2 separate regions of the Homo sapiens genome follow, and region 2 is linked to region 1. The links come from fine-mapping of genetic effects on gene expression. A gene starts in region 1. The other region holds a variant in brackets. All regions are shown on one strand. Distances are from middle to middle. Region 1 holds the start of VIRMA (vir like m6A methyltransferase associated). Region 2 overlaps VIRMA (vir like m6A methyltransferase associated).

Evidence for each region. PIP is the estimated chance that this variant, and not a neighbour inherited with it, causes the effect.
Region 2: its variant is the best candidate, but not a certain one, in a credible set for the expression of VIRMA in iPS cells (iPSCORE, PIP 0.54).

The regions. Positions count from the first base shown.
Region 1 is chr8:94,551,790-94,554,709 of GRCh38, forward strand. VIRMA (vir like m6A methyltransferase associated) reads right to left here and starts at 1,680. Exons shown (of 24, transcript NM_015496.5): 1 at 1,596-1,680. The coding sequence starts at 1,658. VIRMA-DT (VIRMA divergent transcript) reads left to right here and starts at 1,924. Exons shown (of 2, transcript NR_183271.1): 1 at 1,924-2,118. RefSeq lists an enhancer at 1,374-1,993.
Region 2 is chr8:94,527,514-94,530,433 of GRCh38, forward strand. VIRMA (vir like m6A methyltransferase associated) reads right to left here. Exons shown (of 24, transcript NM_015496.5): 7 at 1,557-1,829. Among named protein-coding and RNA genes, the nearest start is that of VIRMA, 24 kb to the right of the region's middle. The variant C/T (reference allele first, on the strand shown) is at 1,347.

The sequences.
Region 1 (2,920 bases):
TCTTAGCTCACTGCAGCCTTGAACTCCCAGGATCAAATGATCCTTCCACTTCAGCCTCCCGAGTAGCTGGGGCAACAAGATCAAACCACCACAACTAGTTAATTTTCTTTTGTAGAGACAGGGGTTGCACTGTGTTGCCTAGGATGGTCTCAAACTCCTGGACTCAAGCAATCCTTCTGCTTCCGCCTCCCAAAACGTTGAGATTACAGGCATGAGCCACTGCGCCAGGCTCTTTCAGTTTTAACTGTTCTCTATTTCTATACACCATAAGTTTGTTCTGATCCAACTACTGCCTCCATTGAGGGTTTTCTAAATCTCGGCTAGAATGTTAGATATAGTCATTGAACAAACAGTGCTAACTGACCCACATTAAATGTCAGACCATAAATTAACTGTCAGTAAGAAATGCTAACTCAAAGTTCTCCAACTTTTGACTTTTACAAACCTATAAACCATTCGTTAAATTAGATCACAGCTGTCAACTTTTTATTTTGCCAAGTAAAGCATTATGATACAATCACTACCCACTATCATTACTATCTCATAAAAGAAAGAACATTTTAAACATTTTCCATTCAAATATTTATTGAGCACCTACATTTTGCTAATACTGTCCTAGGCACTGGAGATACAGCTGAGAAAAAGAGAAATTATATCTGTCCTCAAAAAGCTTGATACAAGAGCACACTTGATAAAAATAAAAGGAAAAAAATAATCTCCAAAGAAAGAACAGTTCTCTAAATTAAGCTTACATTAAGACAGAAAAATGTGAAGTTCGTTTTTTTTTTTAACAATTTCTCCGTAGACTTCATTCAAGTTCATTTTTGGTCTGCTTTCAGGAATCTTTAGTTAACCAGCTATGTTTAATCTACATATTGCAGGGCCAATTGTACATTAAGGGGCGCTCAAGTAGTTTTGTACAGAAATATTACTCCACAACATTCCACCTCCAACCTCAAAGGAGATGTCTGCTGATGAGTTTAACTATAATTCTCTCAACTCTCCCCTCTTCGCAAGTATTCTCCGTGAATGCATCTCATTCCTAATGTGTGAAATCTCTCCGAGAGACAAGTATTAAAGTTTCAGGCCAAATCGGAGAGCACCGTAATCCTAAACCAAGTAAGTGTCACAACTGGGGAACATAATTCCCGACAGAAAAGAGGCCAAAGAGAAAGGATTTAGAAACATCGTGATTCGGAAACCACGAAGCCAACGTAAACTGCTCAGACTCCGGCACTACTGTCAAACACTACTGGCAAACCAAGACCCCTCCCAAACGCCATCTGAGGTAAACCTGAGAACCCTGATCCTTCTCAAGGCCCAAACCTGACAGGAAAAATAAAAAATAAAGCCATGCAAGCAGAAAAGCCAACTCGACCAAAGACACGGAGGGCCCAAGTTAAAGCAAGGAAATGAAGGGGCTGCTGCAGCCCTCCCTCAGACGCGATGCTCACACAGCTCGGGGGAGGGTGTCTGTGTGTAAGCGAGAAATTAAAGAAGCAATCTGCAGAAGGAAAAGTGGAGAACGCCTAACGGTTTTTTTGTAAAGATCCCAAGTCAAGAAGCAGCGTCAGAATCAAGTCGCCAAGCCTTACCTCAGCGCTCGGGTGTTTAAAAGTATCTAAAAATAACAGCTCCATCGCCGAGTCCACCGCCATGTTTGCCGCGGGCGGGGAACAGGGGGGAGGACTTCCGGGGCAGCGCTCCAGCCTCCGCGACAGCGACTCAGGAGAGGGAGAAACAGAGGGACTTCCGGTGACCAGAGCACTAGCGCCGCAAACCTCGGCCTATCCCAACGCATCTTGTTGCCCGGAGTTGCCGGCCCCGCCTTTTCCAGCGCGGCGGAGGGCGCCCCCTAGAACGCAGAGGGGGGGCAGAGGGAAGTGAGATGGGGACTACGGGGTCTCCAGTGGTTCAAACCCTGTCGTTCCTCCGCGTTACAGAGCTACAGCGGTCTCCGGGTGGCGAAGTGCGGAGACGGGGTTTTGGAGACGGTGGATGGAGGAGGGGGAGGGAAAGCTGCCAACTTTGGATACCAACCCCGTACACCCACCGAAGGGGATGTCCCACTTTTTCCAGCGCTGGGAGCAAAAAGATAACAGTGAGCGAGGTTGAAAAGTAAGACATTGATTTAAATAGAAGAAAAACTGTTGTTTCAACCAACGAAGAGATTCTTTGTTTTCTTATCTGTAAAATGTGAAAAATCGTACCTAACCTACAGGGTGATTGTGAGGAGTAATTGAAATAAAATTCGAGGAATTGTGTAACGTGAAGTACCATGAACAATAAAACAGGAGGCAGAATGAAAAGTAAGCCTCTCTGTCGGGTGTTGATGAGCTTTGGAGCAACGAGATAAACTCAGCGGGTTTGGTAGTCTAAATGGCACAAACCCTTAGCAGAGCAACTAGGAAATAGCTTGTAAAATTACACGTGCCTACCACTCTTCTAGGAAAATTCTCGCCCACGTATCTACAAATACAAGAATATTCATAGCAAACTTTATAAGTTGCAAAAGAGCAGGAAACATAAGTGCCATTGACAGAAGTAATAAGTAAATAGTGGCGTATTTATATAATAGTATATAGCAGGTACGAAGAATGAACCAGTGCTATGTTTACTAGCATGAAAAACCCAAAAAACAGGGTTGGTGGGCGCTTTGGCTCACGCCTGTAATCCAGCACTTAGGGAGGATGAAGCGGGAGGATCGCTTGAGCCCAGGAGTTGGAGAACTGCCTGGGCAATATAGCGAGACCCCGTTATTCACAAAAAGAAAAAAAAAAGACACAAACCAAAACAAAACAAGTTTAACTCCTCTCATCGCAAGCCGGGTGCGGTGGCGTGTTCCTGTGGTCCCAACTTCTCGGGAAGCTGAGACAGGAGAATCTCTTAAGCCCAGGAGTTGGAGGCCAGTGGGGACACC
Region 2 (2,920 bases), 24 kb before region 1:
CAACATTTTATAATTTCTAATAGAATTATGGACAAACTTCTTTTTTTCCTGAAAGGGGTGAGACCTGAAAACTGGACAAACATTTTAAGCAAATTCCTCTGTATCTGTTCAGTTTTACAACTAACTGTAACAGATATCTTTTCCTCACAGAAATATAATTAGAAATGCCTCAAAGTAACAAAAATATCTATCTCAGGAGGAAAGAAATTATGCTTGTCCTCTTGAGAGATTATTTTTAAGACCAAAAAAAACTGGTTGTTTTAAGTTAAGTAAGAACTAATATCATCAGGTTAAACCAAATACTTTCAGCAAAACCATTGTAGATTCGTTTTATAACAATTTCACATTCCAGAATTTTTATTTCTCTGCATTTACCTATCACACAGTTTTGTAGGTCTCCATTATATTTTGATAGAAAATGTGTCCATTTAAAATATGGCTGTGCACAGTGGCTCATGCCTGTAATCCCAGCACTTTGGGAGGCCAAGCCGGGCAGATCACTTGAGGTCAGGAGTCCGAGACCAGCCTGGCCAACATGGTGAAACCCTGATCTCTACTAAAAATACAAAAATTACCTGAGCGTAGGGGTGCGTGCCTGTAAGCCCAGCTACTCAGATGGCTGAGGGACAAATCACTTGAACCCTGGAGGTGAAGGTTGCAGTGAAACAAGATCGCACCACTGCGCTCCAGTCTGGGTCATGGAATGAGACTTTGTCTCAAAAAAAAAAAAAAAAAAAGAAAGAAAAAAAGAAAACTGCCTGCCTAACATTTAACTACTTTTGCCAAATACAATAAATCTAGAAATAATTATTTGATAATCTGTGAATGGGGAAAGTTAAAAAAAAATCACATGATAATCTAGCTATTTGATATTTTTTAAAAGAGCCCCTATGATTCTGAAATGACATTCATTTTTACTATCTGTAGAAAAAAGCCAAGGCAGATTATCTGTTATTCTGCATAAATGCTTTAACATTAAATGCCATTTCTTGGGCAAATTAAGAGCCAATTAGCTTGAGTATCTCTCACTTTTTGCTTTCAAAGGAAAAATAAAGCCTAATTAAAGGACTGTATCATACTGCCACATGTACTTGTGTAATTGAGATTTTTCCCTTGAATTTTTAAAAATAATGTAGCATTTGCTAAAATATCTAGGTGGCAGACATCTTTAGGAATTCCACCTAGCTTTACCACTCCTTACTCTGAAAACAGCCACCAAATCCCTAACCAACATGTATTTGTTACATGACCCTGTTTTCCTGGCAAAAGCTGATGCTGTCAAAGGGAAACTCATACTGTAGCAAGTCAAACAGAAAACTGAGATACAGTCAGGCAGTTTAGGCTGG[C/T]TGGTTAAACAGGGGAGATTAAAGTAAACACACAAAGCAGAGGAGAGATGGAAATCTCATTTCTAGTCATGCCTTGAGGCCTAGCTACATTCTGACCCTGGGTTTCTTGGAACCCATTTATCTTTGCTAGAAATTCTTTTGCATTTTTCAAAGCTGTATCGAGTTAGTTTCTAGTACTTAAACCCCAAAGTCCTAGCTAACATAACCCACCTTCACCTTCTTCATCCTCTTCACCTTCTTCCTCTTCATCTTCCTCTTCCTCCTCAGGAATACTGTCTACTGTTCGTCGATCATCCTCATCCTCATCCTCTTCTTCCTCTACATCCACATCATCTTCATCTTCTTCTCCTTCTTCTTGTTGTTCCTCTTCTACTTCTCCTTCATCAGAATATTGCCCTTCCTGGGGAACAGAATTCCGATCAGGAGAAATGGGCTCAAAGTAATCTTCTCTATGAGGAGCATCCTCTTCCTTGTCACCAGACACTGAAAAATTGAGATTTAAGGCACAGACTATTTTAATGGTTTAAATGACAAAAGGCAGCAAGACTGGATATGGCAACTACTTAATATTTTGGTTGATATAGTTTATAAATACCCTTAAAAAAAAAGAATTACTCACTGTTTAAAAAATATTGAGTATACACTGTACAACTTCTACAGTGAGCAATAATAAAGTATACTGTTAAGCCATTCCCTTTCTTTTTAGCTTTTAAGTAACTATACACGTTTTTGTCTTTTCCAGTACATACTTATTTTTATTTTATTTTATTTATTATTTTTATTTATTTTCTTTTTTTGAGACAAGAGTCTCACTCTGTCGGCCAGGCTGGAGTGCAGTGGCATGATCTCGGCTCACTGCAACCTCCGCCTCCCAGGCTCAAGCAATTCTCCTCCCTCAGTCTCCTGAGTAGCTGGGATTACAGGCGTGTAACACCACACCCGGCTAATTTTTGTATTTTTAGTAGAGATGGGGTTTCACTATGTTGGCCAGGCTGGTCTCGAACTCCTGACCTCAGGTAATCCACCCACCTTGGCCTCCCAAAGTGCTGGGATTACAGGCGTGAGCCACCACGCCCGGCCTATTTTTATTTTATTTTATTTTTATTTTTAATAGAGACAGGGTCTCCCTATGTTGCCCAGGCTGGTCTCACACTCCTGGGCTCAAGAGGTCCTCCTGCCTCAGCCTTCCAAAGTGCTAGGATTACAGGCATGAGCCACCACACCCAGCCCAATACTAGTGATTTTTAACTGGTACTCTTTTGTACATATCACTACAGCAAACTAACACTTTATTTTGGCACAGCTTCAAATGAATTAACAAATTTTTTTTTAACAAGTTAACTGGCTGACAGAAAGAAAAATACAATTAGTGGCCAGGCACTGTGGGTCACACCTGTAAATCCCAAAACTGTGGGGGGCCAAGGCGGGAGGATCACTTGAGTTTAAGACCAGCCTGAGCAACATAGGAAACTTCTTCTCTATAAAAAATTAGCCAGGCGTGGTGGTATACACCTGTGGTCCTAGCCACTGGGGAGGATGAGGTGGGAGGATTTCTTGAACCCGGGAATTCAAGG